Linked DNA regions of Homo sapiens. The protein of the gene in region 2 binds, or shares a complex with, the protein of the main gene of each other region. Each region holds a gene or a part of one and is shown on either strand. Other genes may lie near its edges. The genes, in order: TACC3, AURKA and TPX2.

Region 1 (7,101 bases), on a different chromosome or scaffold from region 2:
CAGAAAGTAAAAACTGCCTTGCTGAGAAAATTAATGTTCGAGCACTATTTCTTTGTGGCACCAGAGAACAAGCATTGTGCATTTCTAACATAAGTTACATGCAGGGGCCACCTGCCCCCGGAGCCCAGGCCTGCAGAGGAGGGGGCCAGCCACACTGTGGTCCCCAGGCCTGCTATTGGGTTACTCACACGGGCTCTGACACAGGGAAGGAGGTTGTTGGGGTACGGGGTCAGGGCCACATCACAGGCCTCTGCGGAGATGACACCTGGGGCCACTGTGAACAACACTGGTGTGGATGTTGGGGCTTGAACCCAGCCCTGCCAGCCGGCCTCCGGAACCACCCTGTCTGCACCTCCCTGGGGACCATCTGGCGACGGTAGCTCACAGTGGTGCCTGCAGACACCCAGCCCCTTTGTGTGCCTACAGCTCTCTTAGGGACAATTTAGGCCCGGAGTTAGAACAGGCTGAAGCCTGGCATGTACAGTGAGGATGGAGGGAGACAAGGCACGGGACCCTCAGATGTGGGGTGGGTGAAGATGGAGCTTCCTAAGCTGCCAGGAGATGCGTCTGGACTCGTGGGAGGGCGGGAGGAAAGGGGCGACACTCGGGCTCACGGCAGCAAGAACCACACTCACTGCTGCAAGGCCACCAGAGGCCAACGCCATGCCCAGGCCGGAGAGTCCCGGGGAGGCTGCTGGTGGGCAGCTGACTGCGGGGACACTGGGTGGAAGCCTGGACCCTCAGCGACCTGGGCAGTAGTGACAGGCCAGGGGCCGGCAGCTCTCTGCAATTCCACCCCAACCAGCAGGGGCAGGGATGGCAGGGATGGCGGGTCAGGCTGTTGGACCCCTGCCCACTGTTGGCCAAGCCCCAGAGCGGCCTGCAGGTTCTGTGGAATAGCTACTACCTGCGTCCTTACCACTGCATCCAGGTCCTTCTGGCTGTACTGGAGCAGGTCCACTATAGGTCCGGTGGACAGGGGTGGGCCCCCAGGCGCGGGAACACCTGGGGGTGGGCCTGGCACCTGCGGGAGATGGGGATGAAACAGGAACCCATTTCGCCCTTGCCTCTTACCTCTGACCTAGTGTGAGGGAGGAAAGGCCCACACAGGCCAAGAGCCTCAGACAGTGCATGAGGGACCCGAGACAGTGCGGCGAGGGAACAGCACAGCGGCCCCATGCCCCCAACAAAACCAAAGGCTCAGACCCCCAGGAATAGAAAATATAGGCCCTTAAAACAACTCGTTCCCTCAGACCACACACAAGACAGTTCAAGAGGGACTCAAGGACTTACAGGAATGTCCAGTGCTCCCAAGAAATCGAACTCCACAAGCTTGGCTTCCCGCGGACGTCCTGAGGGAGTCTCATTTGCACCGTGCATGCTGCCACCAAGCAGAGGCAGCCTCAGTCACTAGGCCCTCCCAGTGTTGAGTAGGACACAGAGGACCATGTGGACAAGCTAACCGGGCTCTTTGCTTTTTAGTTTAAAACCACTCAAGTCAGGGTAGTGGTAGAAAACGCAGACCCGCATCCAGCATGCCCGGCCTCTCTGCTGCTCCGTGCCCCCCTCCCTCACCTGCCCATCCCACGTGGCTGCTTGTCCTTCCGGGAGAGCACGGTGACGCTTCATTACCCACTGCAGGCTGAGCGGAGCCAGTGCTGCCTCATCAGGGGGCTGTTCACAGCTCAGAGCCTTTTTTTTTTTCTTTTTCCGAGACAGGGTCTCACTCTGTCACCCAGATTGGAGTGCAGTGGCATGATCTCGGCTCCCTGCAACCCCTGCCTCCCAGGCTCACCCGATTCTCCTGCTTCAGCAACCCAAGTAGCTGGGATTACAGGCGCCTGCCGCCTCACCCGGCTAATTTTTGTTATTTTTAGTAGAGATGGGGGTTCACTATGTTGGCCAGGCTGGTCTCAAACTCCTGACCTCAGGCGATCCACCCGCCTCAGCCTCCCAAAGGGCTGGGATTCCAGGTGTGAGCCACTGCGCCCGGCCATGTGTTAGGATTTGAAGGCCACACAGCCTCTGTCACACTACTCAGTTCTGGCCTTGTAGTGTGAAAGTTGCCACAATTTGCAAAGGAACGGGCATGGCTCTGTGACGATAAAACTTTACACAAACAGGCAGTGGCCAAGTCTGGCCCACAGGTGATAGTTTGCTGACCTCTATTTTTTGGTTTTTTTTTTTTTTTTTTTTTTTGAGATGGAGTCTCACTCTGTTGCCCAGGCTGGAGTGCAGTGGCGCAATCTCAGCTCACTGCAACCTCCGCCTCCTGGGTTCAAGCAATTCTCCTGCCTCGGCTTCCCAAGTAGCTGAGACTACAGGTGCATGCCGTCACACCCGGCTAATTTTTGTATTTTAGTAGAGACGGGGTTTCAACATGTTGCCCAGGCTGGTGGCAAACTCCTGAGCTGAGGCTATCCATCCACCTCGGCCTCCCAAAGTGCTGGGATTACAGGCGTAAGCCACCGCGCCTGGCCTGCCGACCTCTGTTTTAGAGGAAGTACTCTTAAAAGATTTAAGTTTAGATCTTTAATATACCTAGAACGGTGGCTGTAACCAGCAAGGCAGCAGCCCTGTGGCTGGAGGGTAGGCTGCCGTTGCTCCTGCCAGACACACAAGGGCTGCTCTGGCCTTGCTGCCCAGCCCACCCCTAGCACAGCTCCTTTCCAGTTCTGATCATCTCCCCCCGGTCTAGAAGCCTCTGTGCAGACAGCACACCTAGGAACAGCCTCCAGTCTTCCCACACTCAAGGCTTCATGCATGAGGGAGGGCCGGCGCACATACCTGCTGGTCTCGGTGGCCACGGGCACTGGTCTACCAGGACTGTCCCTCAGGAGGGGGTCGAACTTGAGGTATAAGGACTGCTTCCTCAAGGCCGACTCCTTAAACTGGGGACAAGAGGGCAAGTGATCAGGTCTGACTGCCATCCCCTAACACACACGGGGGCTAAGGGCCAGGGAGGTCACCTGCACACTCCCACCCCCGGTCACCCGCACACTCCCACCCCCGGTCACCCACAACCCTGCCCGAGACACCACCATTCCCAGCAGCACAGCGTGTCAGAGTTTCATCCTGGGCTAGGCACCAGGTAGAGAGCCCTAGAGCCCTGCCACAGGACACCACTTAGAGGAGGTGCTGCAGAAGGGGCCCTGGATTCACAGCCCGCCACAATGCCTGGGCCTGTGTGCAGCTGGGGGGACGTGGGCACCAAGGGACGCTCCGGGGGCAAGACCTGCCGTGGCTGCTCTCGGACACCCTGTGGGTGAGGCTTCGCGGAATTGCCTGGTACCTACCGAGGAAGTTCCAAACTGCTCCAGGTAATCCACCTCCGCGCCCGTGCCTAGAACTGAGAGGAGTGAATCATGCCGCCGCCATCGCCCCTCACCAGGGCCCTAAGGGCGGCGGGCTGGTGTCTCCCTCAGCACTCAGTGAGGCAGGATCATTCCAGCCAGCAGTATTTCCTCCCTTGGAGGTGTGGATGTTCGGGGCCTGACTGCTGTCTGCGGCAGGCGCCTCCTGGGCACCGCAGGGTGCTGAGCGGCATCCCCAGCCTCTACCCACTCCCTGCCAGCAGCACCTCCAGGTGTGACAACCACAAACATCTGGGGAAAGGCGGGGGCAAAACTGCTCTGGTTGAGAACTATTAGTCTTTAAAATTACCCTAGACAAGTCTTTTAATTTTTGATAATATAACTTTTGATTAAAACTAAGGGTGGAGGCTGAGGCGAGTGGATCACTTGAGCCCAGGAGTTCAACAGGGCAAAACCTTGTCTGTACAAAAAATACAAAAATTAGCTAGGCGCGGTGCTGCACTCCTATTACAGGGAGGCTGAGGCAGGAGAACTCCTTGAGCCTGGGAGGTGGAGGCTGCACTGAGCTGAGATTATGCCACTGCACTCCAACCTGGGCAGCGGAGGGAAAACTGTTGCAAAAAAAAAGAAAAGGTGCCTCATACCACATACAAAGATTAACTCAGAATGGATCAACACCCTAACTGTGAGAGTTAAAACTATCCTACTTTTTGTTTTGGTAGAGGAGGAGTCTTGCTACGTTGCCAGGGCTGGTCTTGAACTCCTGACTTCAAGTGATCCTCCGGTCTCGGCCTCTAAAACTATAAAACTCTTAAACTGTGGCTGGGCGCAGTAGCTCACATCTGTAATCCCAGCACTTTGGGAGGCCAAGGCAGGTGGATCACCTGAGGTCAGGAGTTTGAGGCCAGCCTGGCCAACATGGGGAAACCCTGTCTCTACGAAAAATGCAAAAATTAGTTGGGCACGGTGGCATGAGCCTGTAATCCCAGCTACTTGGGAGGCTGAGGCAGGAGAATCGCTTGAACCCAGGAGGCGGAGGTTGCAACAAGCTGAGATCATGCTACTGCACTCCAGCCTGGGCGACAGAGCAAGACTCCGTCTCGGGAAAAAAACAAACCAAACTGGTACTTTAAGACAGGGTCTTGATCTGGCTGAGATCCAGGCTGAGGCATCTCTAGTTTTGTCCCTTTCTTCATGCCTAGCAGTATTTGCTCATTCTCTCCTTTTCTCAATTAAGCTAAAAAACGGTTGCCAATTATTTAGTCTAGCAAAAACTTGTAGGTCCTTCTCTGCTATGGCCTTGTCAGTTTTCTTTTCTTTTTTTTTTTTTTGAGACAGAGTCTTGCTCTGTTGCTCAGGTGGAGTGCGGTGGCGCCATCTCGGCTCACTGCAACCTCCGCCTCCTGGGTTCAAGCGATTCTCCCGCCTCAGCCTCCCAAGTAGCTAGGATTACAGGCATGTGCCAACACACCCAGCTAATTTTTGTATTTTTAGTAGAGATGAGGTTTCACCATGTTGGCCAGGCTGATCTCAAACTCTTGATCTCAGGTGATTCGCCCTCCTCAGCCTCCCAAAGTGCTAGGATTACGGGCGTGAGCCACCGCACCTAGCCTTGTTGTCAGTTTTCATTTCTGCCTTTTTTTTCTTTCCTTCAGATAGGGTCTCGCTGTCGCCCAGACTGGAGTGCAGTAGTGCAATCATGGCTCACTGCAGCCTTGACCTCCTGGCTCAAGCGAGCCTCCCATCTCAGCTTCCCGAGCAGCTGGGACTATAGGTGTACGCCACCATGCCAGGTAATAAAAAAAAAGGTTTTTTTTGGTAGAGATGAGGTCTTGCCATGTTGCCCAGGTTAGTCTCAAACTACAGGGCTCAAACAATCCTGCCTCGGCCCCGCAAAATGCTGAGATTACAAGTGTGGGCCCCTATGCCTGGCCAAAAGCCAATACTTTGAAACATCATCTGATAAGGGACTTAACTTTGTATTTTTTCCTTTCCCTCACTTCTTGAATAAAAGGGATTTACCTCTTAAAACTCAGTAATAAAAACATAAGTGGCTCAATGGACAAGGGATCTCGACAGACACTTTCCCAAAGAAGATATCCAACGAGCACATAAAAAGACGCTCGTTCATGAGCCACCTGGGAACTGCAAATCAAAACCGCAACCAGATCCGCTTCCCACCCGCTGGAAGTCTAGGATCAACAAGACAGACAAGCAGCGCTGGCGAGGATGTGGAGAAACTGGAGCTCTCTTATAACTGCCAGTGGGAATGTGAAACACTGCAGCCACTCTGGAAGGCCACCTGGTAGCTAAAAGGTGAGCAGAGTTACTGTGACCAGCGACTCCACTCCTAGCTATGTATCCAGGAGAAATGGAAGAATACATCCACATAGAACTTACACCTGAACATTCGAGGCAGCACTACTCCTGACAGCTAAAAAGCAGAAACCAGCAAATCCATGAATGAATGGATAAGATGATGTGAAGCCAAGCTGCCACGGCAAGGACAGGAGCACCCACACCTGCTCCAGCATGGCCAGGACTCGGAAACACACCTCCCCGAGGGAGACGCCGGACACAGAAGGCCGTGCTGTGTGATTCCAGGGATCCTGCGTGAGGGTGACAGGCCCATCCCAGCTGAGCTGATATCCCCACATGGTGGCGGCCCACAACTATCCTGTCAGCGACAAACCCTACATGCCATTCGTGTCTGCTGTGTGCCTGGGTTTTCAGTTCTCTAAATTGAGATCTTATACCCACCTGGCTGTGTGTCCTTTAAAACAACTCAGCCATCAATTCCTACCAAATGCACTTTAATTTAAGGACCGTTCCACCTTCCAATCTTACGGACAAACCGTATTTATTTAACTGCAGCCTCCAATCTTACGGACAAACTGTATTTATTTAACTGCAGCCTCCAATCTTACGGACAAACCGTATTCAACTGCAGCCTCCAATCTTACGGACAAACCGTATTCAACTGCAGCCTCCAATCTTACGGACAAACCGTATTTATTTAACTGCAGCCTCCAATCTTACGGACAAACCGTATTTATTTAACTGCAGCCTCCAATCTTACGGACAAACCGTATTTATTTAACTGCAGCCTCCAATCTTACGGACAAGCCGTATTTATTTAACTGCAGCCTCCAATCTTACAGACAAACCGTATTCAAGTGCAGCCTCCAATCTTATGGACAAACCATGTTTAACTGCAGCCTCCAATCTTACAGACAAACCGTATTCAAGTGCAGCCTCCAATCTTATGGACAAACCGTATTCAACTGCAGCCTCCAGTCTTACGGACAAACCGTATTTAACTGCAGTCTGGTGTCTAAGGTTCAGGCTTCACATTTCATTATCAAGGGGTTCTGGGCCGGGCGCGGGGGCTCACGCGTGCAATCCCAGCACTTTGGGAGGCCGAGGCAGGTGGATCACTTGAGGTCAGAGTTTGAGACCAGCCTGGCCAACATGGTGAAACCCCGTTGCCACTAAAAGTACAAAAATTAGCTGGATGTGGTGGTACATGCTTGTAATCCCAGCTACTTGGGAGGCTGAGCAGGAGAATCTCTTGAACCTGGGAAGTGGAGGTTGCATTGAACCCAGATTGTGCCACTGCATTCCAGGCTGGGTGACAGAGCGAGACTATCTCAGAAAAAAAAAAGAAGGTCGTTTCAAGCAGTATTTCTGATGATCGAGTATCCAGTTGTTGACTCTACACTTGTATCTCATTAGCGCACTGCATTGTTCACCTCTCCTGCTCATTTTCCTGAGTCTACAGTTTCCA
Region 2 (7,778 bases):
CTGGGGTGACTCAAGAACGAGTCCCTGGACCCTCCACTTCTCCATCTACACCTTCACCAGGGATCCATATCACCCAGTGCCTCAGCTCTAAATGCCTTCATGAGGACCACTCAAAGTGCGTCTTCTGCCCTAGTCTCTCCTTGGACTGTCAGACTTGGATATCCAAGGATTTGCCCAGGATCTCCCAAAAATGTCTGCCAGGCACCTCAATCCTAACATATCCAAAACTGAACCTCTTCCCTTCTCCACTTCTCACCTCCCTGTTCATGGGTGTGCCCTGAGCTCAGGCCTAGAATGACTTCTCCATCTCCAATTACTCCCTAGCCGAGTACATCCAGTCTCTTTGCTTTCAGTACCATCTACAGGCTGAGGACTCCCAAATATTCATTCTTCAGCCCAGACCTCTCCCCTGAACTCTTGATCTACATTTTCTACTTTCTATGCAACATCTGCACCTGATTATCTGAGCGGCATCTCCATTCTAACATGTCCCAAACAGAAGTCCTAATCTCTCCCCACTCTCACCTCCCCAAATCTAGTCTCTAGACATCCTCATCTCAGTGCATGGCAAACCCATCCTGTCAGTTGCTCAGGCCAAAAGCCTTGGCATAATAACCCTTTACGAGGTTCTCTCTCGCAAACCCTTCATTTAATCCACCAGCATATTCTGTAGGCTCTGCCTTCAAGATCACTGCTCACCACCTCTACTACTACCACCTGGTCAAACCATTATTCTCTCTCCCTTGAGTTTTTTCCAACAGCCTCCCAATGGCCTCCCCACTTCCACCCTTACCCTGTCATGGTCCATTCTTAACACTGAGGCCGGCAATCTCATTAACAAATCAGATGTGTTGATCCTCAGTTCAGAAGACCCCCATGGCTCCCAACTCAATCAAAACAATGCAAACTCCTAACCTGCATAGACAGGCCTATTGAAGTCTCACAGAACATGGACCCTAACTACCTCTCTGACTTCATCTCCTCTTCTTGTCAACCGTGTACCAGCCACACAAGGCTTTCTTTCTGCAAATAAGTCCCCTGCCATAAGCATTTGCACTTCTTGCTCCCTTTATTACGCTTTTCCCCCAGGTGTGTAGTTCAGTCTTTCATTTCACTGAGGTTTCTTTTTTTTTTTTTTTGAGATAGAGTTTGCTCTTGTTGCCCAGGCTGGAGTGCAATGGCGCAATCTCGGCTCACCCGCAACCTCCACCTCCTGGGTTCAAGCAATTCTCCTGCCTCAGCCTCCAGAGTAGCTGGGATTACAGACATGCACCACCACGCCCAGCTGATTTTGTATTTTTAGTAGAGACAGGGTTTCTCTATGTTGGTAGGGCTGGTCTGGAACTCCCGACCTCAGGTGATCCACCCACCTCGGCCTCCGAAAATGCTGGGATTACGGGCATGAGCCACCGCGCCCGGCCTTCACTGAAGTTTCTTATCAAATATCCCCGCACTCTGGCCTGGGCAATGGAGTGAGACCCTGTCTCAAAAAAAAAAATTAAGATTACCATTTTACAATTAAGCAAATAATTCCATGATGAAGCCAGGCCCAGACTACAGGCTGCAGCCCTTATAAAAAAACAGTGGGTAAGTAAAAGTTGATAAACAGCAACAAGGAAATGCACACTTGTGTTAATCAAATATTTAATTTCACACATGCTCTAATGCTTTACTTCCCTTACAATTCTAAGTAGCAGTCTAATGAGATCACATAGGCCTAACAACATTTATTCAACATTCTTCTGACAGAAGCTACAGGCATTTGCTCCAATTTATTCTACCTTTCTTTCTAGGGAAATTGAATAACAAGCAGAATGGAATAAGATTCTAATCCAGAATTCTGGAGACAACGCCAAGGAGACTGCCCTTCAGGTGACTCTAATCTGCAACCAGATTGAAGAACCAGATGACTTTCACAGGATCCATTCAGTTCAAACCAGAAGTCCTACTATTTTGAATAGAAAAGCTGTTAGGCTAATAGCGCAGGAGGTTTATACGGTTTATTCCTTCCTCCCTCAGACCTGTGCATGTCTGCAGAGATGAAGGGAAGGACGAACTGAGTAGGTTGCTGAAAAACGTTTAATTCAAGGGACAAGGAAGGTTACGGAAGAGGAAGAGACATTACGAGAGTTAAGGACAGTGGCTACGTCTACCTCAGCCGGATGGTTCTTAGAAATGGAGACTCTGAGGCCTAACCCCAGGTCTAAAAAAACAGATTCTGCATTTTAACGTCCCCAGACGATTTGTATGCACCGGTCTGCATCCCTAGTTCTCAATGAAACCTAAGAATCATCTGGAGAGTTTGTTAATAACTAGACACCTGGGTCCTACCCCTCAGAGATTCTGATTTACCGGGCTCTCGGTGGAGCTATATGTTTAACAAGCACTGCAAGTTATCCCGGTACAACTGCTCCAAGGTCTACGGTCTGAGAAGTACGGACCGGGAAGGCCTCTGCAAGGAGGTTCTCATTCATCAATTCACCCACTCATCCAGCCAGGACAAGGGCCTTCTTAGGCTATTCTATCTAAAGCGGCCCCCGTTAAACCGCACTCCTGCTTTTCCTCTGTAACACCCACCCCAGCTGCAAGTTCTCCGTACGCTTACCGTCTGTCTCCCCACCCACTAGAACGTGAACTCCAACACAGCAGAGACCTTCTGTGCTTTTCTTACCCAGGTGATCTCGGAGGACAAAATCCAATCTGAAGCCCACCCACCCCTCCCGCGCATGTCAACACCACTCAACAAACCCCTTGTACCTCTAGCTGTAATAAGTAACAAGCAGTATCCTACAGGGCGCCTCGGTGCCCAGGAGCGGATGCAAAGGCGCTGGGCGGGCACAAGGCAGCGCCAAGGACACTCAGGGACGGAGGAACCGACAGGGGACTTGACGCTCCGCCACTCCGACCAGCCGCCCCTTGTCCCCGCCGTCCTCGTCCGCCACTGAGATATCCCCCACGGTCTACCCACCCGTCGGCTCCCACCTGCGACCCAAGGACCCAAGTCTTCCAAGAGCTCAGCCGTTAGAATTCAAAGGTTCTTCTTTTTAAATAGGAGTTAAACCCTCTAGCTAGAAAGCCGATTGGCCTGCGCTCGAGCGAGGCTGCCTTGTGATTGGTTGACAACAAACCCGACGCCTTGAGTCGCGTTTAAGGGCGCACACCGCGCGCAGGCGCACTTGCTCCCTAAGAACCCGGAAGTGGTGGAGCCAACGGCCAGCCAGACCTGTGGCAGTCCCAGCCCCAGGGTGCTCTCCGCGGTCGGCCATTTATCGGTGAAGCAACAGCCCCTTGACGTCAAGCTTGACGCATTGGAGATAAAGTCCAAGGAGGTGAACTAACCTTTGAACGTGCCAGTAAGTAAGATGGCGAGAAAAGCAAGAGAGAGTGGGACCGATCGATAGCGCAGCGGTCGGCTTGGCGCCCTTTCAGCGTGCGCAGTGAACGTGCGCTCGGAGCGGTAGATTGGGCAGGATTCGCGCCTCCATTTTTCCAGGAGAGAGCGGGATACCAAGAGAACCGGACCAGCTGGTACTGGGACACGGGGAGAGTAGCTGGTGCGGTCGGCTGGGGCATTTAGAGAAAACCACAGAAACGACTGGGGCGAGACTGGAAGAGTCGAGAGTTAGCAAGGTGGCATGCGCCTCTACTTTGCGTTTCCTAAGTTGCCCGGCTTGGCCTGCACCCCTTCCTCTTCTCGAAGGGCCTCGCTTCCATTCCCACCCAGTCCTTAGTTCGCCTCTGCATCCAGATGGTCGCGGCGCATATAGTGAGGGGGCATCTGTGTTCTAGCCTTTCCAACTGCGATGTATCCGGTCCTGGATCGGGTTCTTGTCCTCGTGTGCTCACCTGCAAATTGGGGATAATTAGGCTTCTGTTTACCTGGCGAGTGAACGTTCTGTGGGAGTTGAGAAGTTAGGGGTGGGCCACTTAAAATATATATATATATACACACACACACACATATACATATATATACACACACATATGTGTGTGTGTGTGTGTGTATGTACACCCGGGATGTGCTCAGCAGAAGTGAAGAGACCGGATAGAACAGTGGTGTAGGGGAACCAAAAATGGCTTCCCTCCATCCTTCCAGGTACCTTATTAGGACTAAGAGTTAAATTCACATAAGACGAATTAACAGATTACTGCAGGGTAAACAGGATGTGCATGTAAAGCATTGAGCTAGCATACGGAAATTATTCGAGTCATATTAACCCAACGTTAACAGTAGAATCTCTCATCAACTTTTCTTTGCCAGACTACCCACTTGTGATTTTCATTCTTTATTGGTACTTAAGAATCTCCCATTTTTTTCGGGTAACTGAACATTGTCCATGGGAGAAAAACGATATTTAATTACGTACAGGAGTCCCACAAAATACGAGACTAAAAGTTGAAGTCAGATGATTAAAGCCTACATGGCATCCTGAGCTACTGAAAGGAATGAATAGAGAATTGGGGGCGGGGGGCGGGAAGCAGCTCTAACACAAGTTATGGGACGGTGAACGGAGGAAATGTATGGTGAATCAAGTTTGTTATGCAGACAGAATAGGTGATCTTCTGGGTGGTGTCAGCCTCTAATCTCTCATGTGATCCGAGTTAATCTTCCCTGGTTTATAAGGATTCGTGACAATTGAGGTATTTTTGGAGGGTCAGACTTTAGGCAGGTAAGGAAAGCACAGGGAAAGCCTCTTCCCGCCTGCTGTTCTCCAGGTGCCCTCAGTTCAAGGTAATCAGCCCGCCAAAGCATCTTGTTTTGGGCTGGCATTTCCTGAACTCCTTCAGTGGTTAAGCTCAGGGATCTGGAGTTGGCAATTCTGGTGTGCTTTAACCTTGGACAAGTAACTCAGCCACTTTTTACGTTGAGTAGGTGTCCTGACCTCCTTGAACCCATTTCATCATCTTTATTTGTGTCCCAGGATTTTCTACTCAAGCATAGACCTACTATGTTCATGTACTACTTCATATACTTGAATACATTGAATGATTTTATTCAGTGAACTGATGCTTACAAAGTACTTAGCATGACGGTATCTGGCATGCAGGAAGTGCTTAATGTTATTGGTTATTATTAACACCATCAGTGTCATACAGTGTGTAAGAAATCAGGCTCTGGGCCAGGCGCAGTGGCTCGCGCCCGTAATCCCAGCACTTTGGGAGGCGGAGGCAGGCAGATCACCTGAGGTCAGGAGTTTCGAGACCAGCCTGGCCAATATGGTGAAACCCCGTCTCTACTAAAAATACAAAAATTAGCCTGGTGTGGTGGCGGGCGCCTGTAGTCTTAGCTACTCGGGAGGCTGAGACAGGAGAATAGCTTGAACCCAGGAGGCGGAGGTTGCAGTGAGCCGAGATCGCGCCACTGCCCTCAAGCCTGGGCGACAGAGCGAGACTCCGTCTCAAAAAGAAAAAAGAAATCAGGCTCTGAGGTCACTTTTATTCTTTATTGCTGTCCCCAGACACCTGTAGCCTTTTAATCTTGGTCCAAACATACACATACATAAAGGCATTGATTTTTGGTAAGCAAATTATCATGTTGAACAGTTGGAGTTCTTTTTTGAATAAGCCAGAAACCATTTACAGTTTTTTGTCTCTTAAGACTGAAGGAAAACTTAGACACTTGTAAGTCAGTGCATGCACAATCCTTCCCGATTATTACTGTTTTTTTTTTCATTTTTATTGTTTTGACCTTGATTGGCAATATTTTATTGGGCAGCTCACCTTTGAGCCTTTCTAACGCATTTAACTCGGTTGGAGTTTTTGTAGTACAGTTGCTTTTTTTTGCTTCATATTTTGATTTACTGTCTAATTAGATTATATAATTACAGTAACAAGCTCAGTTGCCTTAAAACAGGTTTTGAGAATGAGCATAAAAGATTAGTAAACATACAGCTCAGCTAGTGGAACCAGCAGTCTAGATCTTGACAAAATAGCAGCTATCTTGCATATTGCAGGTACCAGTCAATGTTTAATTAACAGAAGTAATGGAAGATTCTGGGATAACAATAAAGAACAAAAATCATAGGTAGCTAGTTTGGTGGAGAAGAAAAGTTGGTGAGAGATTGTACCGTAAACACTGGCTAACATGACTTGAACAATTTCTGTATGCCAGGCACTGTGCTCAGGGCTTTATATGCACCACCGTGTTTAACTTCCAGTAACTTAACAGCTGAAGAACCTCAGGCTTAGAGAAATGAGGTCACTGACCAAAGATAATGCAGCTAGTAGAGATGGGATTTGAGTCCTGCAAGATTAAGTCTGACCAAAGAGTCCTATGTTGCTTCTGTGATTTACTAGAGCCTGTACCCTTCACCGTCCATTTTCCGTTTTTGCAGCTGGCAGGGAAACTGTCTTCCTTTTCTCCAAGATGTACAGAACCAAAGTGGGCTTGAAGGACCGCCAGCAGCTCTACAAGCTGATCATTAGCCAGCTGCTATATGACGGCTACATCAGCATCGCCAATGGCCTCATCAATGAAATCAAGCCTCAGTCTGTGTGTGCACCCTCGGAGCAGCTCCTGCATCTCATCAAACTCGGTAGATTGTGAACACAAATCCATACGTCCCATGGCAAGGTTTTAGATATTTTCATATGGCAGAATTTTTCAAGATTATTCTTGTTTTGTTTCAGTACCTAGTATGAGCCGGGTACTTCAGTAAGTAAGTAGTTCAGCATGAGTTCAGGAAGTAGCTCAGTAAGTAAGGGGTAAAGCAAAGTTCAGATTATGAAGACCTTAAGCTGGTTCTGGCCTGAGGGTCTTTGTACACATTATCTGGAACACTCTGTCAGACATATTACTGACTTCCTTCAGATTTTACATCAAATGTCATCTGAGTTCTCTTAACTCCTCCTAAAATAATCCGACCCTTTCGTGCATTTTCCCGGTTACCCTGCCATAGCGATCCCATTTGTTTTATAACAGTTGTTTTGAAATTTCCTTTATCATTTGGGCTGTTTCCCATGGGATCCTTACCTCCACACTTCCCACCTACTGCTGCCCCCTTGTCAAAAAAGACTACAAGTTGAGTAAGGATCAGGACCTTGTATTATTCAGCAGTATATCCTGGAGCCTACCTGGCTAATAATAGAAAGCACTCAATAAAATATTGAATTACCAAACATGTTAATACCCTTTGACTTGGCAGTGCCAATTGTGAGCATTTCTCCTGGGGAAATAAAATGGACAAACTGCAATGCCAACAACATGGAATTAGCTGTAAATTTTTAAATATCCATAAAAGTGAATACTATAACATAATTATATAGATGAATATTTATTAGCCAAGATACACTTTTGTTCTGCTTGATTAAGTGAACAAGTGAGTCACAACATGTTACACAGCATTGCTCTATTACTGTTTTGAAAAATAAAACAGCCGTGCACGGGGAAGGATCCCTAAGAATTTATACCGATACGTTAACAGTTATTATCTCTGGGTGGTAAAATTCAAGGTCATTTTTATTTTCTTGTTCATCCATAGTGTTAATTTTTCCTCTACTAATCAACATATTATTTGATTTGTCAAGTTATTTATAAATTTTAAATGCATATTCTTGATAAACCAGTTTTTTTTAAATAACTTTATTTCAAAAACATTTCACTAGCATTCATGTTAACAATGTAGCTAACTTAACGAGCATCAGAGCTGCTAATATATCTCAACCCTAAAAATATTAAAATTTGGAATGGAAAAAAATGGATAATTTAACTACAGAACTGCTATTTTTTGAGTTTCTGTAGTTGTAGATAAAGTAGTAAACTCTGGAGGCAAGAACCT
Region 3 (7,348 bases), about 25 Mb from region 2:
TACAAAAATTAGCCAGGCATGGTGGTGCACGCCTGCAATCCCAGCTACTCGGGACACTGAGGCAGGAGAATCGCTTGAACCTGGGAAGCGGAAGCTTCAGTGAGCCAAGATTGCGCCAGCCAGTGCACTCCAGCCTGAGCAACACAGTGAGACTGTCTCAAAAAAAAAAAAAAAAAAAGAGCAAACTTTTACTACTTTGTTTTACTAAGTACAAATAACATTATTTTTAATTTCCAAAGTAACCTCTAGATACAATTTTATACTTTTCTCACTGTTCTTTATTCCCCTTTTACCAAGTTTCCCTACACAAACAAAAACGGAAGCCCTCCGCAGTTATCTATCCTTTTTTCACAGAGTACCTTGGGCTGCTGATCTCTACATCTCTGTCTCAAATACAGATCTATTCACAGAATCGCTTGGGTTATGAAATCTCTCTAAGGCCAGGCAAGGTGGCTCACACCTGTAATCCCAGCACTTTGGGAGGCCGAGGCAGGTGGATCACCTGAGATAAGGAGTTTGAGACTAGCCTGGCCAACGTGGTGAAACCCTGTATCTACTAAAAATACAAAAATTAGGCCAGGCACAGTGGCTCACACCTGTAATCCCAGCACTTTGGGAGGCCGAGGCAGGCAGATTACGAGGTCAGGAGATTGAGACCATCCTGGCTAACATGGTGAAACCCCATCTCTATTAAAAATACAAAAAAACTAGCCGGGTGTGGTGGCATGCGCCTGTAGTCCCAGCTACTTGGGAGGCTGAGGCAGGAGAATTGCTTGAACCCAGGAGGCGGAGGTTGCAGTGAGCCGAGAGCGCACCATTGCACTCCAGCCTAGGTAACAAAGTGAGATGCCATCTCAAAAAAAAAATACAAAAATTAGCCGGGTGTGGTGGCAGATCCCTATAATCCCAGCTACTCAAGAGACTGAGGTAGGAGAATTGCTTGAACAGGGGAGGCAGAAGTTGCAGTGAGCTGAAATCGCGCCACTGCACTCCAGCCTGGGCGACAGAGTGAGACTCCGTCTCAAAAAAAAAAAACAAAAACAAAAACAAAAAAAACAACTCTATAGTCAATTTTGCTTCCTAACTTTGCCCATAGCAAAGAAAATTAAGTATGTCAAAGGGCATTTAAATATCCCTCCTCTTTCTCCCAGGAACTCAAAGAGAATTAGGGAAGAGACACAGAAAAAGCTGAAGGAAAATTAACCAGGAGATGTAGATGAGCCCTGAACATCTCCTGGTAACTAAAGAAATGAAATGAAGGACTCTCTCACATAATCCTGGACAAACTTAATTGCAATAAATTAATTTTATCAAGGTTGGAATACACAGATTTATGCATAAGGTTGGCCAAATAAACCCTATTCAGATAATTTGAAAGTCTAAACAAATTTACCAACCTAGTTGAATACAATCCAGTTTTTCATACCCGCAATTTTGTAGTCAATTCAGATAGTGCCTTCCTGCCTACTCAATTCAACAGGTATTTAGTGGGTGATTCCTATGCACTAGGATTGTTTCAGTCCCTGTCTAACCAAACTCTGGTTATCAAGAATTAGACAAGGGTGGCTTTGTGAAGCACAGAAACACAAACTGGCTCTTGAACTCCCTCACCTCTAAATTGTCCAGACACCTAGAATACAAAACAGTAGAGCACCCAGATGGTGTCCTATCTTGCTCTGATTCTCACTTGCCAATTTCAAACCATGTTTTTGTCCCCAAACATACCAAAAAACGTTTGAGTACATCATATATCTGTACACCCATAATATCTCATGCCAATCTGAGCACAGTACCCTCAAAGGTCAACTAAATGGCTGAGTTAGCTGACAGCCACATAATTTTGATCCAAGAATGCCAGCTTAATACTGAACTGACTCACCCAAACCAACCAGGGGGACTCAAGTCTGACGTGGGGGTGATGTAATACACTAAGGCCACAATACAAGAATATCCTTACTACAGCAGCAAGTAGTCCTATTTTTGACAACATTTGATGAGTGAGAGAAATTCAAAGAGAGGCCACAGGATGTCAAGAAAAGGTAAGGGTGAAGCAGGAAGTAAACCAAGAGCTGGTCTTAAAGCAAAATCCAGGAGTCAAAAATCCTCTTCTATCCTAAGTAGGCCTGATTTGGGGGGAGTCCATGTTACTGAACTACTAGAAAATTATATGTGGAAAACCAGACGTTATATGTCAAGAAAATAGGGGGTAAACCAATTCTACATTATAACCTGGTTTGGTTTTCCTTCCCCCCTCCAATCTATAAATGTTGAGAAAGGAAATGAGAAAGGGAATAATATCTGGTGATTCCATACAAAAAGAGAGCTGGACAAATATGGATAACATATAATGAATTTTAAATCCCAAATAGAAGACAACTCCAAGTGGACTTAAACTCTCCCTCAATTATGTTCTCACACCATCTAATTATCTTCCTGTTTTAGACAACAGTTTTGAAATGTACTTATTTGTGACTACCTCTGTTTTCCTCCATCAAACGCCACACTTCCTGAGGGCATGGCTACTGTATCACCCATTTCTCGAAATTTATCTAGATTCTGGGCCTCAGTTTCCTCCTCCTTCCTCCTTCCTCAGTTTCTGTCAAGAGGGACCAAGAATAGCACCAACTACATTGGCTTGGCGAGGAAATTAAATGAGAACGGGCATGCAGGGTGCTTAGTTCAGTCAATGTTTATAACCTGTTAGCATGGTAATAACAATAATTATCGTTACCGTTATTAGCCGACAGCCTCCCGCAACTCTTTTTTTCCTCCGTTTCCCGGACGGACTTCACAGCAAAATCCTGTCGCCAAGAGAAGCGTGGCCCGAAGCCCCTGCTCGCACCCTGCCCCGCCTAGGCGGCGACCGAGCACCGCAACCGCCTCAGAAGCCAGGCCTAGCGGCGCGAACGGCGCTAGGGGCTGGAAGGTGAACTTCAGCCGTTCCAAACTCCGGGAGGAGGGAGACCCGCGCCCTAGCTGCTCCCTCTTTTCTTCCCACGGCTCACCTAGCCTCGCCTCAGATCTGACAACGAAGCGCGAGCCAACCCGCCGCGGGACTCATTCAGTATCGTTGAAATTTTGAACCCAGGCAGCCTAGTCGAATGCACCAATCAGAGCGCCGGGAAAGCAATTCCAGGCTCCCGATTGGCCCTACAGACCGCAGCAATACCGGAAGTCAGAAGGAGGTACCAGCGAACAACGCGGCCCGGAGTTCCTGGGAAGTGTAGTCTCCTGCGCCTGCGTGAGTCCACTGGAACAGCTCTTAGGAGTACGTTATTACAAAGACCGGAGTGCTCTGCTCCAAACTATTTGGGAAAGGTGGTACCAACTGAAGAGGTGGAGAGTCAACCTAGATCACAGAATGGCGCGCATCCTGGACCTCTCCAAGTTTTCAGGGAAGAAAACTCTATTTTTAAAAATTATTCTCGTTATGGTTGTGCATTATCCCTTGAAGGTTCAGGGAGTTCACTTCGTCTTAACATGGAGTCGCCTGCATGCAACATAGACTCGCCCGTAGCGTCCTTCCCAATAGTGCAGGAGTCTTTGAAACCTTTTACCCAGTCCCTGCCCTGATCTTATGAAACCCGCGGTTCGTTGGGAGCTTTATCCGGTTTTATTCCCAACTGCATCCCGGCTTTATGATCCCCATGTCGTAAAAAGAAAACAAAGTCTAGGAGAAGTTGAACAAACATGTCCAAAATCACATAATAAATGGAGAAGATGGGATTCGAATTAAGAAGGTCTGTTCTTTTTATACACCACCGATAATTAATTAGAGGCCGGGCTTCGTGGCGCTCACCTATAATCCCAGCTCCACAGGAGGCTAAAGCAGAAGGATCCCTTGAGACCAAGAGTTCCAGAACAGCGTAGACATCATAACGAGACCACCCCCACCATCTTAATTTTTTTTAATCAATTAGAAAATAGCAGCAACAAGAACAACAAAACAACCCCCTTCATAATACCAGCAAAAGCTAAAGATTCAAAAATTAAGCCTAGGCTGGGTGCGGTAGCTCACGCATGTAATCCCAGCACTTTGGGAGGCCGAGACAGGCAGATCACTTGAGGCGATGAGTTCGAGACCAGCCTGGCCAAAATGTTGAAACCCCCCCCCATCTCTACTAAAAATACAAAAATTAGCCGGGCGTGCTCGCGCGTGCCTGTAATCACAGCTACTTGGGAGGTTGAGGCAGGAGAATCACTTGAACCCAGGAGGCGGAGGTTGCAGTGAGCCAAGATTGCACCACTGCACTCCAGCCTGGGCAACAGAGCGAGACTCTGTCTCAAAACAAAAAAAAAAAGGTCAAGGCAATTCCAATGAAAGTCCCAGTGGGTTCTGTTCTGGAATTTGCCAAGTTAATTCTAAAGTTCCTATGGAAGAGTACAAGTACTGGCATCTTGAATTTTGAAAAAGATTGGGGGATTTATGTACAGATTTTGTACATATTAACATGAAATTATAGTAATTTTTAAAGTATGGTTCAGTTAATTCACACCCATGGGGGTGCAATCGGCAAAATCCAGACAGGAAAACCACAGGACAATTTAGTTCCTTCAAAACATAAACTGCCAGAGTTTGGTTTTGTTTTCTTTTTGTTGTTGTTGTTTTGTTTCATTTTGTTTTTTGAGACGGAGTTTCGTTCTTGTAGCCCAGGCTGGAGTGCAACGGTGTGATCTCAGCTCACTGCAACCTCCGCCTCCCGGTTTCTCCTGCCTCAGCCTCCCAAGTACCCGGGATTAAAAATGCGCCACCACACCCGGCTAATTTTTATATTTTTTGATAGAGACGGGGTTTCACCATGTTGACCAGGCTAGTCTCGAACACCTGACCTCGGGTGATGCCCCCGCCTCACCCTCCCAAGTGCTGGGACTACAGGTGTGAGCCACCACACCTTTTGTTTTCTTTTTTAAGAGTCCTTGTGTTGTAGAGATACATATAGATACGGTAGGGATGAAATTACTCTGGCACTGGCTTCCAAATAATTGGGAGTAGGCAGTGAAGATAAGTAGGTGGGGATTTAGATGAAACAAGATTAGCTACAAATTGATAATTGTTGAACCTGGTGATGGGTTCATGATACATAAATACATACATATACTCTTGTATGAGTTTGAAATTTTCCACAATTAAAATGGGGTGGTTGCCTGGTGCTACTTGGAAGGCTGAGGCAGGAGAATCACTTAAACCCAGGAGGCAGAGGTTGCAGTGAGCCAAGATGGTGCCATTGCACTCCAGCCTGGGCGACAGAGCAAGACTCTACCTCAAAAACAAAGGGATGGGGGAGTGGTAGTTGTTGTGGTGGTTGTTTTGTTATTTTGAGATAGGGTCTTGCTGTCACCCAGGCTGGAGTGCAGTGGCAGGATCACGGCTCACTCCAACCCCAACCTCCCAGACTCAAGTGATCTTCCCACCTCAGCCTCCCACAGTGCTGGGATTACAGGCATGAGCCATGGCACCTTGTCTAAAAAGAGGTATTTTTGGCCTGGCGCGGTGGCTCACGCCTGTAATCCCAGCACTTTGGGAGACCGAGGCGGGTGGATCACGAGGTCAGGAGACTGAGACCATCCTGGCTAACACGGTGAAACCCTGTCTCTACTAAAAATACAAAAAAAATTAGCCGGGCATGGTGGCGGGTGCCTGTAGTCCCAGCTACTTGGGAGGCTGAGGCAGAAGAATGGCATGAACCCGGGAGGCGGAGCTTGCAGTGAGCCAAGATCGCGCCACTGCACTCCAGCCTGGGTGACTGAGCAAGACTCCGTCTCAAAAAAAAAAAAAGTATTTTTGCTGGGCACAGTGACTCATGCCTGTAATCCCAGCACTTTGGGAGGCCAAGGCGGCCAGATCACCTCAGGTCGGGAGTTCCAGACCAGCCTGACCAACATGGAGAAACCCCGTCTCTACTAAAAATAGAAAATTAACCGGGCATGGTGGCAGGCGCCTGTAATCCCAGCTACTCGGGAGTCTGAGGCAGGAGAATCGCTTGAACCCGGGAGGTGGAGGTTGTGGTGAGCCAGGATCGCGCCATTGCACTCCAGCCTGGGCAACAAGAGTGAAACTCCATCTCAAAAATAAATAAATAAATAAAGGTATTTTTAAGTATGGTATTGTCGTAGAAGTTAAAAGTGGGGGAAATCAGTAGAAGAGTTTAAGAGTCCAGAAACACACTCAGCCAGTTATGGTGGCTCATGCCTGTAATCTTAGCACTTTGGAAAGCAGAGGCGGGAAGATTGCTTGAGCCAGGAGTTTGAAATCAGCCTGGACAACATGGCAAGATACAAAAAACTTTTAAAATTAGCCAGGTGAGGTGGTGCGTACCTGTAGTCCCAGCTACTCAAGAAGCTGAGGTATGAGGATCACTTGAGCTTGGGAGGTCAAGGCTGCAGCGAGCCATGATTCTCCAGCCTGGGCGACAGAGCTGGGTCCTGTCTTTAAAAACAAAAACAAAATCCAGAACTCATGTATATCAGAATTTAGTAGGCCAGGCGCAGTGGCTCACGCCTGTAATCCCAGCACTTCAGGAGGCCGGGGGTGGGGGGCGGGGGCAGATCACTTGAGGTCAGGAGTTCGAGACCAGCCTGGGCAACATGGCAAAACCCCTTCTCTACAAAAAATACAAAACTTAATAGGCCTGGCACAGTGGCTCATGCCTGTAATCCCAGCACTTTGGGAGGCTGAGGAGGGGGGGTCACGAGGTCAGGAGTTTGAGACCAGCCTGGCCAACATAATGAAACCCCGTCTCTACAAAAAATACAAAAATTAGCCAGGTATGGTGGTACGCACCTGTAGTCCCAGCTACTCAGGAGGCTGAGGCAGGAGAATCGCTTGAACCCAGGAGGCAGAGGTTGCAGTGAGCCAAGACCATGCCATTGCACTCCATCCTGGGTGACAGAGTGAGACTCTGTCTCAAAAAAAACAAACAAACAAAAACAAAAATTAGCTGGGCATGGTGGTACTCACCTGTAGTCCCAGCTACTCCAGAGGCTGAGGTGGGAAGATCGTCTGAACCTGGAAGGTGGAGGTTGCAGTGAGCTGAAATCAGGCCACTACACTCCAGCCTGGGAGACAGAGCAAGATCCTGTCCCCCAACCCTCCACTAAAAAAAAGAAGAAACAAAACTGGCCATCAAACACATGAAGGTGCTCAGCCTCACTATAATAAAGGAAATTGAAACAAGAAAGTTCCATTTTTCACCCATCAGATTAACCAAAATTAAAAGTTTGATAGTATCAGAAATTTGTAAGGTAACTCAGCAGGTAGGAGTATAGATGGGTGTGGACAACTATTGACAACTATTTTTTTTTTTTTTGAGACAGAGTCTCTGTCTGTCGCTCAGGCTGGCATGTAGTG

The links.
Region 1: the proteins of AURKA (region 2) and TACC3 are in contact, whole or in part, in a crystal structure (PDB 5ODT), measured with the Homo sapiens proteins. Residues at the interface, in NP_001310232.1 of Homo sapiens: Leu130, Phe133, Glu134, Ile135, Gly136, Arg137, Tyr148, Leu149, Ala150, Arg151, Ile158, Val163, Arg205, Tyr207; in NP_001428248.1 of Homo sapiens: Glu523, Ser524, Phe525, Arg526, Pro528, Val531, Leu532, Gly533.
Region 3: the proteins of AURKA (region 2) and TPX2 are in contact, whole or in part, in a crystal structure (PDB 3HA6), measured with the Homo sapiens proteins. Residues at the interface, in NP_001310232.1 of Homo sapiens: Lys125, Arg126, Gln127, Trp128, Asp132, Glu152, Gln154, Ser155, Phe157, Leu159, Lys166, Glu170, Gly173, Glu175, Leu178, Arg179, Val182, Glu183, Ile184, Ser186, His187, Leu188, Arg189, Tyr197, Gly198, Tyr199, His201, Val206, Tyr246, Ser249; in NP_036244.2 of Homo sapiens: Gln3, Lys5, Ser6, Ser7, Tyr8, Ser9, Tyr10, Asp11, Ala12, Pro13, Ser14, Asp15, Phe16, Ile17, Phe19, Ser20, Ile31, Asp32, Trp34, Phe35, Glu36, Lys38, Ala39.

The regions. Positions count from the first base shown.
Region 1 is NC_000004.12:1,731,521-1,738,621, reverse strand, and holds part of TACC3 (transforming acidic coiled-coil-containing protein 3), read right to left. Parts: intron 3,350-7,101; coding exon 3,297-3,349; intron 2,892-3,296; coding exon 2,788-2,891; intron 1,382-2,787; coding exon 1,294-1,381; intron 1,025-1,293; coding exon 920-1,024; coding exon of another isoform or gene 908-919; intron 275-907; coding exon of another isoform or gene 230-274; exon of another isoform or gene 1-229. UniProt on the Homo sapiens protein: Plays a role in the microtubule-dependent coupling of the nucleus and the centrosome. Involved in the processes that regulate centrosome-mediated interkinetic nuclear migration (INM) of neural progenitors.
Region 2 is NC_000020.11:56,389,186-56,396,963, forward strand, and holds the start of AURKA (aurora kinase A), read right to left. Parts: upstream 3,031-7,778; 5' UTR 2,983-3,030; exon of another isoform or gene 2,606-2,982; intron 1,481-2,605; exon of another isoform or gene 1,371-1,480; intron 1-1,370. Other genes in the region: CSTF1 (cleavage stimulation factor subunit 1), read left to right, coding at 6,368-6,536. UniProt on the Homo sapiens protein: Mitotic serine/threonine kinase that contributes to the regulation of cell cycle progression.
Region 3 is NC_000020.11:31,735,005-31,742,352, reverse strand, and holds the start of TPX2 (targeting protein for Xklp2), read right to left. Parts: upstream 3,064-7,348; 5' UTR 2,732-3,063; intron 1-2,731. UniProt on the Homo sapiens protein: Spindle assembly factor required for normal assembly of mitotic spindles. Required for normal assembly of microtubules during apoptosis. Required for chromatin and/or kinetochore dependent microtubule nucleation.